Linked DNA regions of Homo sapiens: region 1 is linked to region 2. A link means that fine-mapping ties the variant in region 2 to the expression of a gene that starts in the linked region. Tissue or cell type: monocytes. Region 2 holds a variant in brackets; the other region holds the start of a gene. All regions are shown on one strand. Distances are between the middles of the regions.

Evidence for each region. PIP is the estimated chance that this variant, and not a neighbour inherited with it, causes the effect.
Region 1: CHPT1 starts here. The variant in region 2 is fine-mapped to the expression of CHPT1 in monocytes (Schmiedel 2018, PIP 0.95).

Annotation. Positions count from the first base shown.
Region 1 is chr12:101,693,265-101,701,362 of GRCh38, reverse strand. It overlaps CHPT1 (choline phosphotransferase 1), which reads right to left and starts at 3,723. Exons shown (of 9, transcript NM_020244.3): 1 at 3,229-3,723. The coding sequence starts at 3,501. It also overlaps a transcript of MYBPC1 not described here. RefSeq lists silencers at 2,990-3,179, 3,440-3,779 and an enhancer at 4,000-4,249.
Region 2 is chr12:101,597,010-101,605,117 of GRCh38, reverse strand. The region is part of intron 1 of MYBPC1 (myosin binding protein C1); the gene reads right to left. It overlaps LOC105369938 (a long non-coding RNA gene), which reads left to right. Exons shown (of 5, transcript XR_001749279.2): 4 at 4,098-4,209; 5 at 5,563-6,564. Among named protein-coding and RNA genes, the nearest start is that of MYBPC1, 6.1 kb to the right of the region's middle. The variant A/G (reference allele first, on the strand shown) is at 4,218.

The sequences.
Region 1 (8,098 bases), 96 kb before region 2:
CAGAGTGGTTGATTTGACTTAGGAAAAGGAAGATAACTTTCATAAGGATATAGTGTTAGAATTGGGTATTGAAAGATGGGTACATAGTTGGATAACTGGTACAGAAGAAAGGAAGAGGAAGGGGAAAAGAGAGGGATAAGAAGGAGAGAAATCCTTGTTATAGTAAGAAGTTCAATTTGGCTGGAGTACAAAGTTCCTTATTGGAAATGATGGCTTGAAAAGCAGTTTGCAGAAGCTAAATATAAATCACAACTTTTTTCTATTAGTTTCCCTTTATCCCCAGTCATGTTCTAGAAATTAGCATCATGCTTAAAAACGTATCAAATGTTATTATTCATGCACTCAGTATTAAAGCCTATATGAGTAGATAAGCCCAAGCATCTAAATCGAAAAACCTTATGTGTTTTTGCTGACTCTTTCTGGAAGCAATCTGTCAAGTCTGAAAAAAACACTAAGAATTCTTAAGTCTGAGAATCAGAAAACAAGTCCCAAGCCAGTTGAAAGTCACTTGACATCTCTGGGCTTCAATTTCCTCTTATGAAAACATATACTACTGTTACTTCAGGATAGATGGATAGAAGAAATACTGAGGTGGTAGGAGGGCCATTGTAGGAAGCGGAAAACTTGCTAACCTCTTTGGCTGATAACAAGACACAAATGCAACCATGGATGTGAAAGCACTTTACATATTTGTATTATGTAAAACATAGGATCTTTTTATTTTTGAAGTCATACCAACTTAGATCTGAATCCTACCTGATCCAGTCATTTGCTAGTTCTATGAACTTAAGAGAAAATAGCCAGAAACTGCTACACTCTTCACACTGTTGCTGGGCTTTCACCAAACAAGCAATGTGGATCCTGTAATGGCGTTTCCCCTCCCTGCATCAGTCACTCAGAAGCATATGAAGGTTCTAGTGACATACATTTCAGAAACTCTTGTTTTTAACTCTCATTTACCCTTCTTGGGCCATTTGATTTTGCACTTTATTTTTAAATGCCTCCAATCCCCACCCTCCACCCTTTTTTTTTTTTTTTTCACATGAGGCTGATCCTAAAAACTAATTAATCATAAACGTACCTCTTCCATCAGGCCTCCCTTTACTTCCCTAGGCAGAAGCTCTTGACTTTTTTGGTAAGCCCTGCTCTTTCTAAGTGTTCAACAAATGCTTCTTAAATTAATAATAACATTGAAGAGTCCACAACTTAACTGGCCAATATCAGAAACATTCAAATGCTGTTAGCTAAATCTGGACCCAATCAAAACTAAATTTTATTATGTGTTTTCAGGATGTTGTCTGATAACAGTAATATTTTTAATGTGTTGAGTGATATTTTTAATTTGTTAGGCACATCGCAATCTTTTACATTTATCTGCATATATATCATTTGGTCCTCACTGCATCCTTGTCAAGTTGTTTTGGCAGGCATTATTTTCTATTGTATCTGTGGGAACACAGACCCAGCAGGTCTGTGGTGGAAGAGCCAGTTAGAAACCAAGACCTCCACTTCCAACCCAGCTATCCTTTCATTCTAACACACTCCCTCTGGTAAATTCTAGAAACAGGCAGCAAAACAGCCAAAAACTAAAGCAGCTTACTTTTTCATATGTAATATGTAAATGAATAGCAATGGCAAATGACAATGGGAATGTCTATTAAGAAATATATAATAAGCCTGGCGCAGTGGCTCACTCCTGTAAATACCAGCACTTTGGGAGGCCGAGGCAGGCGGATCACTTGAGGTCAGGAGTTCGAGACCAGCCTGGCCAATATGGTGAAACCCCGTCTCTACTAAAAATACAAAAATTAGCCGGGCGTGGTGGCAGGCACGTGTAGTCCCAGCTATTCAGGAGGCTGAGGCAAGGGAATCGCTTGAACCCAGGAGGCAGAGGTTGCAGTGAGCCGAGATCACCACATTGCCCTCCAGCCTGGGTGACAGAGCGAGACTCTGTCTCAAAAAAAAAAAAAAGAAAAGAAATACATAATAAGCATACCAATCCATTGACAAGATATTTTAAAATGTAGGCTCGATCAAATTTTTGTTTTTAAAGGATGCATGAGCCTGGCCAACATGGTGAAACCTTGTATCTACTAAAAACACAAAAGTGAGTCGGCCGTGGTGGCACGCGCCTGTAATCCCAGCTACTTGGAAGGCTGAGGCAGAAGAATCGCTTGAACCCTGAAGGCGGAGGTTGCAGTGAGCCGAGATCGAGCCACGGCACGGCACTCCAGCCTGGGTGACAGAGTAAACCCCTGTCTCAAAAACAACAACAAAATGGATGCATGCATGGAGGGCATGAAATATTTCCACTGTATTTCTGTTAATCCAACCTCAACCTCCATGAGTCCTCCACAAGGCCTACACTCAAATGATTATAAAGGGACTTCACTATTTGGAGCAGAGAATAGAAAGTAATGTCACAGAATGTGCAATGTAATATTTATCCCACGTAGTATAAACTATAGATGGGAGTGAACTCCACTCTGCCCCCTATCCCTCCACACTCAGCCCAAAGGGTGCTTCTGATGAACAGCTATCCAAAGCCTATATTTACTCCTTATTTTGTACAAAGGTCAAATGTAATTATTGCTAATAAAATGTTGGGGTTTTTTTAATCCCTAGGTTGTGATGACAAAAAAATTATTGCCTTGATAACATTCCAGTTTGTTTTTCTTGAAAAAGTCGATGAAGCAAAGAGGAAGTTACCTCTTAACTCATCTTTGATCAGTGCTACCGGTCATTTCAAGATCACTAGCTCAACCTTCCAGAAACGAACGGTTACGAAAGTATTCAAAGGGCGTCTCGGGCTTGGCACAAGTCCCTGTGCCAGGCAGGACGGAGATGGGGGTGTTCAGTCCCCAGTGTGCAAAGCACCCGACCGCGGGTCCGTCTCACAGGTTGGCGCCGCATGGGATAGCGGCTGGGCAGGCGCCCTCCGGCCCGTCCGCGGCCGTGGGGAGGATCTGCGCGGACATAGGACCTGGGGCAGTGACCTTAACAGCCCCTCCGCTGCCCAGGGGAGGCTTGGGATGGTCACGGGATTGGGATAGTGGCGTGACAGTCTCCAGGCGGCCCAGGGCGGACACCGCCCGGGGCAGTGGCCAGTCCGCCCCTCCGGGGCCCGGGAGAGGCTCAGCCGCGCGTGGGTCCGCCCTTCCCCCGGCGCCTCCAGCGACCCGCCCGCAGCGCATCTGGGGCCCGGCTCGGGCGATCGGCCAGCCCTACCTCTTCGGTGGCCGTGGGACAGTAGGAGATGAGCACGAGCGTGGTGACCACGTTGACGGCGAGCCCCAGCAGGGTGATGGAGTTGGGGGCCATCCAGAGCGGGATCCACTGGAGCAGCCAGGTCCAGTAGAGCTGCAGCGGCGGCTCGAGCAGCGAGACGCCCGCCGCGCTGTAGCGGTGCTCCTCCAGTCGCCGCAGCTGCGCCGCGCTCAGCGGCTCGCTCAGCGCCCTCAGCCAGCGCGGCGCGGACCCGGCCCCGGCGCCTGCCGCCATGGCCGCCTGAGGGCCCCGCCGCCGCCACCGAGCGCAGCCCGCGCCTGGCGCTGGGGGCAGGGAGAGGTGGAGGGAGAGGCTGGCGGCCGGGTCCTGCGACTGCCGGGCTGGACTCACCGGTCGGGCCCGCACGGCGGAGGTCGAGGTCAGGCCGGCCTGCCCGGCTGCCGGGGCCCCAGCCCCAGAAGCTGTGGGGCCGCGGCTGCGGCTCGCGGGTGGGGCGGGGCCTCGGGGAGGGGTCCGGCTGGGGGCGGGGCGGAGGGGGTCCTGCTAGGGGCGGGGAGGCGGGTGCCGCGCTCGCGGGTCACCCTCGGCGCCCGCCAACGGCAACTTGTTATCGGCGATCAAGGTCCTTGACTCCCCAGGGGCCGGCTGCACTGCGCCTGAGGTCTGATGTCTTAACCCACGGCGTCGGATTACGCCCTGAGGTCGTCTCCTCGCGGGCTGCACCACGACCGAGCCGGTTCCTCTCCTAGGGGTCGGAACACGACTCCGGTCGCCCAGTGTTAGCCACTGCAGGACCACGCTGCCCGCAGAGCCTGGGGGTTTTCGTGTGAGAACACAGTTTTGCAGGGCTCGGGTCACGGGGGTGACGGCCCCATCTGTCCTGCTTGGTAAAACACACAAGCACAATTCTCCCTTTCTGTACGGAGGAAGGCGGCCCTGCCATGTATTCGCTCTAGAGACCCATCACTGCGGATTCAGAGACCAAGGTTTTGAAACTGAAAATCAGGGCTTAGAAACACTAACAAGGAGACCGAATGGCTGAAACCCCGATACCTATTTTCTTCAGCGCATTTGATACCAACAAGGGTGAATATTTTTACACATACTCTTCCCTGGAATAAAGGGCAGGAGTGTCCTCCCCCTGCAAGGGGGAACAGGCTGGCTTGCCACACGCATTGGTAGGTCACCGGCCCCTTATCTCACAGTGCACTCACTTGGACAGGGGACATCTGTCATAAACACGTTCTGTTGCACAACCTGAGACAGGCCTGTCACTTGCTTTGCTCTTCACTTCATGGCTCTGATCTGCACGCACTTTCTAAGGCCTAGGACAAGCCAGAAATTGCTTCCAAGACACTTGTGTGGCGCAACCTCTATCGGCAAGTGCAGTTTGCCTCACGGGCTTCGTCAAACACTTGGCACAGGGGTCCACGAACTGCTGCCTGTGTGCCAGACCCAGCCCACCACCTGTTTTCCTACAGCCCTCCAGCTAAGTATGGTTTTGACATTTTTAAATGATTGGAAAAAATCAAAAGAATACAATTTTGTGTTGTGAAATTATATGAAATTCAAAGTTCAGTGCCACGAATAAAGCCATGTTTATTCCTTACCTATTGTTTGGCTGCCTTCATGCTACAAGGGCAGCAGAATTCAGTTGTGACAGACCGTATGGCTGGCAAAGCCTGGACTATGTCCTACTAGGCCCTTTAAGGAAAAAACTGGCAACCACTGCCTTAGAGCAATGAGGGTCTCTACAGACCAAGCGTATATGTCTTAGGAATATGGATCTCCTCATCTTTAGTGTGAAAAACGATGCTGACAAATGCAGGAAAGGAAATGGAATGATGGAGATCCACTTTTAACAATGCTGGTTTATGTGCAGTGAACTTGACAGTAACTACTTTTTAATTTACCGATGCCATGAACAGTCCAAGGAAAAAATCCTTTTCTAGATTAGCCGATTTCACTGTATTAAAGATAATTTTTAATGTACATCAAAAGACGTCATCAAGAGAATGAAAAGACAAGCCATAAACTGGGAAAAGGTATTTCCCTCAAAACCCACAATGAGTAGAACCCAGATTATGTAAAGAACTCCTAAAAATCAATCAGAATAAAAAATAATCAACTGGGCTATGTTCTGTTTCTATAGGAGAAGCCCTGGAACATGGTAATGTTCCAGGGTGCACTTATGAACATGAGTGAATTGCACAAGCATATGTTGACTGAAAAAAAAAAAGAAGCAGGTGTATTAGTCAGCTTGGATTGTCATAACAAAATACCACAGACTGAATAGCTTAGACAACAGGAATTTATTTCTCTCTCACATAAAAGAAGTACAGAATTGGCACTCCAAGACTGGTACGATGTTTCCATGGTCATCAGGAACTCAGGCTTTTCTGTCTCTCTGCTCCAATATCCTCTCTGACTTGTATCTATAAGGCCATCTCATGATTCAGAATGGCTGGTGAAGCTCCAGTCATCTTATTTGTGTTTCAAGCAGCAGGAAGGAGTAAGAGGACAGGAAAAACAAAAAGTAGATATCACTGGCTGGTGAGCAAACTGGGGTGCCTCTCCAAAACTCCCAAACAACACTTCTCCATACAGTAGTCTCCCTTTGTCCCTGGTTTTACTTTTCTGCAGTTTTAGATACCCACAGTCAACCACAGTCCAAAAATATTAAATAGAAAATTCCAGAAATAAAGTGTGAGTTTTAAATTGCATGCCATTCTGAGTAGCGTGATGAAATCTCACCCAGTCCCACTCTTCTCCACTCAGGACTTACATCATCTCTTTGTCCAGTGTATCCCTGCTATATAAGCCACCTGTCCTTTATTCATTTATTAGCCATCTTGGTTATTAGAAACAACATAGTACATATAGGGTTCGGCATTATCCATAGTTTCAGGCAACAGTTGTGGGTCTTGGAATATGTCTCTGGAGATAAGGGGACTGTTGTATTATGTATCTCATTGGCCAGAACTTAATTATGTGGCGTACCCAAGTGGAAGTGTTTGCTAGGAAGAGTAGATGGTTACAACCACTTGAAAAACAACCTGGCATGATCTGGTGAAGTTGAAGATGTGTGTACTCTGACACCACAATTCTGATCCAGAAACAGATCCTAAAGAAATTCTTGCACATGTATCCTAGGAGATAAGTATAAGAATACTCATGACACCTTTGTCTGTACAATAACTAAAAGCTGTAAATAACTTATATGTCCACTAATATTGAATGGGTAAATAAACTGGTATTTTCAAGTAATTTAATATTATATAGCAAGTTTAATATGGCAGTAAAAAATTAATGAACTATAGGTACACTTATGAACATGAATGAATTGCACAAGCATATGTTGAGTGAAAAAAAAAAGCAGATGTATTAGTCAGCTTGGATTGTCATAATAAAATACCGTAGACTGAATAGTTTAAACAACAGGAATTTATTTCTCACAGTTCTGGAGGCTGGGAAGTCCAAAGTCAAAGTGTGTTTCTTAGTGAGAACTCTCTTCCTGGCTTGCAGATGGCCACCTTCTATGTCTTCACATGACAGACAGAGAGAGAAAGAGAGGAAGCTCTCTGGTGTCTCCTTATAAAGTCCTTATAAAGGCACTAATCCCATCATGAAGGCCCCACCCTCATGATATCCAATATCCTAAAGGCTCCATCTCCAAATACCATCACATTGTGGAGGATTACGGCTTCAACATATGAATTGGGGGTGGAGCAGGGGCAGGATACCATTCTGTCCATAACAGCAGGCCATAGGCAAAATACACACAGTATTATTTTACTTATATAAACTTCAAAAACATGTGACTGCACTTTGCAGCTCCCATGTGGCAAAGCTATGAAGAAAAGGAAAAGAATTATAAGTACAATCCTGATAGTGGTTACTCCTGATAGAAAGGAAGGTAAATGCAATTATAGAGGGGCACATGGCAAGTTTCAAAGGTATTGGTAATTTTTTAGACTACAGCTGGGCAAACTACAGCAACCTAAATGGAATAGAGGTTTATTTTTCCCACATTGATGTCTGGGTAGGCATGGTAGGGCTACATGGCAGCTCGATGGTGTCAGAGACACAGACTTCTTCCATTTTATTAGTCTGCCGCCTTTCAGATGTTGCCCTTGTCCTTGTGATCAAAAATGGCTGGCCATGACTCCCAACCAATAGGAAGGGGAAAAAGAGAAGGGGCTGCTATGCTCCTTTCTTCTGAAGGCCATGATCAAAGGTTGCACACATCACTTCTGCTCTCATCCCATTGGCCAGAGCCTGGCCACATGGCTGCTATGCCTAACTGTAAAAGAGCCTGCAAATGCAATCTTTAGCCAGACAGCCACCTGCCCAGCTAAAATTTCTTTTACTTGTTTATTTATTTATTTATTTATTTAGAGACAGATTCTTGCTCTGTCACCCAGGCTGGAGTGCAGTGGCGCAATCTGAACTCACTGCAACCTCTTCCCAGGTTCAAGTGATTCACCTGCCTCAGCATCCTGAGTAGCTGAGACTATAGGCATGTGCCACCACACCCAGCTAATTTTTGTATTTTTAGTAGAGATGGGGTTTCGCCATGTTGGCCAGGCTGGTCTCAAATGCCTGACCCCAAATGATCCTCCCGCTTTGACCTCCTAAAATGCTGGGACTACAGGTGTGAGCCACCACAATCGGCCAAAACATTTCTATTATTATTGAAAAGTGAGAGAGTGGGTATTGTGGGGGGCCATCAAGCTGTCTCAATCACAGTTTTTTAACTGAGTAGTAGTAACATGTTCATTTTACTATTATTTATGCAATCTATGTAACTATATATCTACATAGATATAGATGGCATATTTGTATATTTTGCAAATATGAAATGTCATAA
Region 2 (8,108 bases):
GGCCTCTGCATTTATCTCAAGCTCCTACGTTCCAGGCACTAAGAGTTTCTGTGTTTTCCTCATGGAAGAAGGCCCTAGCTCCTCAGTAAACCCAGGGCCTGGGACTTGGGAAAGGTAAGCAGGGTGCCTGAGGAGCAAAATTTAAGGAGGTCACTTAAGGGGCTGAACCTGCATTTTGGTGACCCAGAAAGTCAGTGCCTTCTTAAATGTTGTGCCTTAGGTGGTGCTAAACTCTACTCAGCCAGATTAATTACCTGGAATGGCGTCTATAATAAAGGACAAAGGGGAGTGAGGGGAACAGTTTCATATGCTGACTGACAAGAGTACTAAAGAAGACAGCACACTTCTAGGAGGGATAAAGTAGGAAAGCTAAGAAAAATTGGAAAGAAATTCAAAATACAAATCAATATGAGTCCATTTTTCAAAAGAGCAAATAATTTGGGCCCTCAGGGTGTCACATGCTACTAATAACTGATATCTATAATTTAAGACAAATTATATCCACTGTACTTTATTTTTTAAAGCAAGGAGTAATATATTACATTTTAAGAATGTTTCTATTCAAACTGGTGGAAAAAATAAGGCTCTGAGGTTATATAACAAAATTAACCTTTAGCTGTGCAGAGAATCCAGCTATTCAGAATGATTCAATCAATTTAATCCATATTTATTTACTATGGTCGAATGTTGCCAAAGACTGTACTGTACTCTAATGTTCTGAATAGATGAAGTCTAATTGTACCTTGATCATGTAAATATTCAATGACTCATTATTCAACCTTTGGAATTTCCCTGAATCTACAGGGTTTTTTTTCCTCCCCTAGTCAATTCATTCTTTTGTCCTTCTAATTATGCAAGTTTCATCTCAGGATGTCATTTCACACAGGAAGAGGATTAAAATATGGTCCTTATTACATAGCAACAAATAGCTTCTCATTGTTAACATGGGGCTGGGGGAAAATTGCTAAGATCTGAGGACTTGCCTTCCTCACTACTCTTACCATGTTTTAAAGAATCAAATGGGGTGTGTTTTGCAGGGGAAGATTTACTCAGATTGAAGGAGCTTAAAATTTTAGCATAGGTCAAAAAGAAATTATTGCAAAAGCAATTTGAATTGTTAACAGTTTCCTCCTTTACTGTGTCTTTTTTGGGGATCTTGAATCAGTTATTATTGTTATTATTATTTTGAGACAGAGTCTCACTCTGCCACCCAGGCAGGAGTGCAGTGGCATGATCATGGCTCATTGCAGCCTCCTGGGCTCAAGTGAATCTCCTGCTTCAGCCTCCCAAGTAGCTGGGACTACAGGTGTACACCACCACATCCAGATAATTTTTGTATTTTTTCATGCTGTTTCACCATGTTGCTTGGGCTGGTCTCAAACCCCTGGGCTTAAGCAATTCTCTGGCCTTGGCCTCCCAAAATGCTGGGATTACAGGCATGAGCCATTGTACCTGATCTTGTATCACTTATTTATGTGGCTATAGGGTTATAGGATAAATTTCTTAAAGGCCTTGCTCCAAACTGTTGCTGGACCTCACATTGGGTGACTTTTTAAAAATAGAGGAAGAAGAGTCCTGACGCCAGGTGGGGTCATAAAAATAAAATTCCACCGCAATAAACACAGTGACACTCAATCAATCACCCACCACATCCATATGTGGTCATGGAGAGTTCTTTATGTGGTCATCTCAGGAAAGCGCAGACTGAGGAAGACCCTATCCACCAAAAAGCACCCCTGATAAGAGAGAGAAATCTTCTTTTTTTTTTTTTTGAGACGGAGTTTCACTCTTGTTGCCCAGGTTGGAGTGCAATGGCGCGATCTTGGCTCACCACAACCTCCGTTCTCCCAGGTTCAAGTGATTCTCCTGCCTCAGCCTCCTGAGTAGCTGGGATTACAGGCATGCGCCACCATGCCCTGCTAATTTTGTATTTTTAGTAGAGATGGGGTTTTTCCATGTTGGTCAGGCTGGTCTCAAACTCCCGACCTCAGGTGATCCTCCCACCTCAGCCTCCCAAAGTGCTGGGATTATAGGCATGAGCCACCACGCCTGGCCAGGGAGAGAAATTGTAAAGTCCCACAAACCCAAGACTTATAACCCTTGGAGACAGACATAGATATTGTTCAACTCTGTAGGGTAACTCTTTCATCTAAGTGGGAAAGGCCATGTCCCCACAAGAACAGTGAAGAAACAACCCAACCGTTATCACCTTATGCTGACAACTACAGACCCCCGAATTGGACATGGCTCATTTCAGTAAGAACACAACAGAGGTCATGGAGTATAGACCTTTTATTTGATCTGAGCTTCTATGGGTGAAAGCGAAGATGTATCACCACAAGTAAAAGAAGGAAATATAGTGGTGGGAATGATGGTTATGACTATCATAGCAGCTTTCTTGGCGTGTATTATAAATATTACACTAGTGAGGAGGTGAGCAGTGGTTGTTACATCCCTTATGTTGAGGGAAATGCCATCAGTTTATGTGAAATATGAGGCATTTAATACCTTGTGCCAGACAAGATTTCTGAGTTTACTGCTTTAGGAGGAAAATGCTTGAAATCTTTCCATATGTTAGGCCCTGTTCTAAGCACTTTACCTGTCCGGGCATGGTGGCTCATGCCTGTAATCCCAGCACTTTGGGAGGCCGAGGCAGGTGGATCACTTGAGGTCAGGAGTTTGAGACCAGCCTGGCCAATATGTTGAAACCCTATCTCTACCAAAAAAATACAAAAATTAGCTGGGCGTGGTGGCGCATGCCTGTAACCCCAGCTACTCAGGAGGCTGAGGTAGGAGAATTGCTTGAACCAGGGAGGTGAAGGTTGCAGTGAGCCGAGATCATGCCACTGCACTCTGACCTGGGCGACAGAGCAAGACTCCATCTCAAATAAAAAATAAAATAAGATAAAATAAGCACTTTACCTGGTGTATTTCAGTTAATTCTTACTGAGACCCAAAGAGTTGATACTGTTTTATTCACATACAGATGAGGAAACAGAGGCATACAAAGTGTAAGTAATTCAGTCTATGGTGCAGCTGGAATTTGAGCTGTCTAGAATGTTCTACAAATAGTATAATTTTTTTTATGTCACCATGTTTAATAATGCATAATATTTAAGATGCATAAAGAAAAAGCCAAGACACATACTGTGTGCATAACAACCCTAAAGACATCTAACTCTAAACATGACAAAATGTAGAATTAAAAAGGACACATTTTGAGTTTTAAGTAGAGCATTCTGTTCCAAGATTCATTAAAATTTTTAGAAGGCAAACGATATCACCAGATGCAAGCAAAGCAATTTATAAAGAGTATTTAGGAAAGATTTGGACAATTTTAGAGAAGAAGAATACTTACCAAAATAGCTAAATACACATCAAAAAAAAAGAATAGAACAAAATCATAAGATCTAACATTTGACATATTATTAAATGTAATTTTAGACGCTGCCCTGATGTGCCAAATTGGCCTAAAAAGGATTCCTAAGGGAGTATAAAAGGGCAAGTCTTATCAAAGTGGATTTAGACTTGAAAGGCATAATGAAAGTCAGATTACAGTTAGCTTTTTGTGAACTCATTATAGAAAGAGAAATAAGTGTGAGATTGAATGATTCTGGTCTCCGCCTCTGCCAAATCAATCAATTCATGCCCCAATCTGATGGGACCTAAAAGTTTACTCTGAAAATGTACGTTAAAGCCCATAAATACTCTGTCCCATGAATGGGAACATCTTGAAATTTGGCCTGTGGTCCATCTTTGGGCTGTCTAAAACAAACATACTCTTTGTAAATTAAAACTGAGCCTATCCACACAGAGCAGAATTACGACAAGACAGTATGATCACTTTGACTTTGGGGGGGCTGTCTTTGTAAAAAGCTGCAAGGACAGAAGCCCTCTTCTTATCCAGTTATGAGATAATTTGCATACATGTAGAAAATTAAGTGACAAAGTCTTTTCTTCTTTTTCACAGTTTGGCTTTCCTTAACTGGTATGCTCTCAAATTTTAGGAAACCCCTCATGAATAAACAGTAGCTACTTCATGATTAACCTAACTCAGAACACTAATTCAGCTACTACCTTTCTGTGTATTTATTCAGTTTCCCCAGGATGCAGTACTTTGAACAAACCATGGATTCCAGAAAAGACATCTGTTTCCATCAAGAACTAACATGGAATAATAACAAAGAAGATGTGGCCACATGCTCTCAGGTACACAC[A/G]TGAAATTAAAATTTCCATACTTATGTTTGATTGCTAGAACTTTAATCCTGTTCTTTATCATCTAACACACTTAAGTATGTCTAGAGATGAAGTTTAGAATTACCACAGAACATACTGGCAGCCAAGAGTATTTTGTGTCTCTTAATATAGTTTTCATAGACTAATTAAGGAGCAGTGAAGATAAAAATAGTCATTATTAATTATAATCAAAATTCTTCTCTGTGTCCACAAACAGCCTAAAAATAATTTTTAAATAAAACAATTGCAATAATTTTAAATAAAAGTAACAAAAATGCTTCCTTGGACTGTAAAAACAATAGCAATAATTACACAGCAATCTCCTCTCACAACCATACAAAATTGAAAAGAAGAATGTATTTGTTTACAAAAGTATTGCAAAAATGTCATTTTGTATTTATTCAAGTTTTTAAAGAGACCACTTATTTATTTGTTTTTGTGTCCAAGCATTTTTTAAAAGCAACTTCAGTCTGGGTAGTTGACTTCAACATTCATGTTTGATTCGGGGATACTTTGAAATTGCTGTTAAAAAGGAAACTCTATGAATTGTGTGTGTATACAGAGCCTAAAAAAAAAAAAAAGTTTCAAGGCTGTGTCTCATGGCCAAAATAAAGTGAGTCATTGAGAGCATAAAGGATTGTAAGTTCTTCATGTTTTCCACCCTCCTGGATTCCTTAGACCAGCTAGTGAGTCTAACTTCCACCTTTGACCAGTCCACAGTCTCCCTTACTCCTGACTTCACTGTTTGAAAGGCCTGGGAACAAGAGGGAATTTCTTTAGATTTACTGGGTGAGAAGTAAGGATACAACTTGTTTTTCCAAAGTCTTTTTAAAGTGATATATTTAGGGCGCTTCAGAGGAAAGAATTGGCCAGTCCTTTATTTATCTTCCTAACAGGTGCAGTCGGAGCAGTCATAAAAGCAGGCTACTGAAAAAGAAGGATTCTGCCAAGTATTAAGCCCCTCTAGCACGCATTTGCCCTAGGGTATTCCTTCTTACAACACAGAGCTCAAATATATGCCATGAATCTCCAGCACAGCATGGTGGTTTTTCTCAGGAGGAAAAAATATGATGGCATTCGTTCATACAACTTCTTTATTTTCAATTGAAATCATCAGCTTGGCCTCGATGAACCATTTGAAGTCAAAAGGGAAACAATTGCCCTTGATAAACTATCTTTCCTCCTCCCCTATTCCTTTCTCTTAGTTTTCTGCATAAATTATTAACCTTTCCCCAATTTGAGGTAAGGATAATATTTGTATATAAGATGACTTTCCAAAGACAAATTGATTTCGGTGTTTGAAATAGGCCATTCACTCTCTTGCAGGTAGAAACTGAAGGTCAAAGAAGAGATATGAGAAGGAGTTTTCCCATCAAGGGAGGTCCTTTTCTGATGGATGACTAAGCCCTGAGAAATGCTTAGAAATAGGCAAGAGGGGATGAATGCTGCTCTACATTCAGGTAGCTTTTTGGCTTGGCAAAACTTTAAAATGTGATGAAATCTCTAGAGAGCAAGAAAAAAAAGATACAGAAATGGAAAAACCCTTATGGACCCCAACAACAACAACAACAACAAAACTGTTCTCTATTACCATGGTCCCATCTATTCCTATTGAAATGTAGACCAAGATGGATAAGATGAATATTGTATGTTGACACAGCAAAATAATCTGCAGTAACAAAGCCATGCCTTTGCTTCCTAAAGTTATCAGAATGGCACCTTAAAATTATGGTCATAAAGGAACCTGTGATTGGCCATACGTTTGAGTTTTCAAGAAGAGATCTTACACGGAACATGAGAAAACTACAGTGACTCTCTTGAGATTTTTCGAATGACACACAAGCACCAAAGAGGAACTTTTGCCTTTTCGGACAAGTTAAGTACATTAAATATAATAAGGTCTGATAAATCAGAAACAAAAAGTGAAATTCATGTTAAGGCCTCAACTCAGTGTTTTAGAAGAGAATTTTTCTGGGTTTTATAGTATCTGACAGTTAATAGGCCAGGCACAGTGGCTCACACCTGTAGTCTCAGCACTTTAGAAGACAGAGACAAGTGGATCTCTTGAGCCCAGGAGTTCGAGAACAGCCTGGGCAATATTGTGAGGCCCCCATCTCTACTAAAAATAACAAAATCAGCTATTAGCTGGGCATGATGGCATGCATCTGTGGTCCTAGCTACCGGGGAGGCTGAGGTGGGAGGATTGCTTGAGCCTGGGAGGCAGAGTTTGCAGTGAGCCATGATTGCACCACTGCATTCCAGCCTGGGTGACAGAATGAGACCTTTTCTCAAAAAGATAAAAAATAAATAAAAAATTAAAGGAATCCAGTTAACAGTTGTCGCAGGATGTTAAAGAATCAGGCTTTATGGTTTTAATCATTACATATTCCAGAGGTAAAATTCTGAGGAAATCATTTTTATGGGTTTAACAGCCATTCATACTATTCTTTAATGAACAGAGATTCTGCCACGGAAGAAAGGCTATTGCAATTGTCTAGTTTGAGGTTGATAAAATTTCTTTTTGACTGGAAAAGAGAAATTTCCAGTGAAAGGTGATTTCTTGGCCGGGCACAGTGGCTCATGCCTGTAATCCCAGCACTCTGGGAGGCAGAGGCAGGTGGACCACCTGAGGTCAGCGGTTCGAGACCAGCCTGGCCAACATGGCGAAACCTCGTCTCTACTAAAAATACAAAAATTAGCTGGGCGTGTTGGTGGGCACCTGTAATCCCAGCTACTTGAGATACTGAGGCACAAGAATCACTTGAACCTGGGAGGCAAAGGCTGCAGTGAGCGGAGACTGTGGCACTGCACTCCAGCCTGGGCCACAGAGTGAGATACTGTCTTAAAAAAAAAAAAAAAAAAAAAGAAAGGTGATTTCTTTACACAGTAGGAACCGGGGGCAATTAACTTTCGGGCACTTACTTGTACTCAATTAATAATTGATATATAAATGAATGTATCAAAGGCATCCTGGGAGATCCCCACAAATCTGAAACTGCCTACAACATCCTCCCAATTTGATCGGAATAACTTAATTGTACTAGGCCTTAGGTTCTGTAAGAATCCAAAGTGGTGTAAGGTAAGTTTTATCTGGAATAGACAGTACAAATAACATAGTTCTCCAAAGAATACATAATATACAATTGATGATGGTAGAAAGTAGAACAATGGGAAGTGGTTACTCCTTAAGAATAATACTTGCTTTCTCCAAAAGGGCTCACTGAGCCACCCAGCATATTCCAAGAGTCTAAACAAGGACCGTTGACTAATTACTTCCATTAGACTTCCTCTTCGAGATCCAAAGTTACATCTGTCCTTCCTCCTTCTCCTTAGAAGAACCAGCTCTCCCAAGATCTAAGAAGAAAACTCCCAGAATTAGGCCACGGTAGGCTGGGAAGTAGTTGAGTGAGACATTTTTTGTACCTTCAGGTGCTGAAAACTCAGCCTCTTTTGAGGAGTTGCCAGATCCTCCTGGATCCTAGGAGGGCCAAACCAGCTCATGTGTCCTATTAAGATTCACAGCAAGTGGTCATGGCCTTCCTGGGCATGGCTTTACGAGCTGTGGGGAAGAGTTCAGAAGACCCATATGGGCTGGAGGAGCCTGTTCTTTGGGAGGGTTTCTGCAGGTATTTTGAAATGATTCTGAAGAACTGGCTCTAGGCCATGTTTTATTTTTCAGAGGGAGGCTTATATGCAATCAAACTAACCCCAGTGAAAATGAAATCACAGTTAGGAGAAGAAGAAAGGACCAGAATAGTTCATGAATTGCCGTACTCCTTACTCTTCTAATGTAAACAATATTAAAATGCAATTATTTCACTAAGGAAAGCTTTTCAAGGTACAGTTCCTTTAAGAATCAGTTCTGCTGGTAA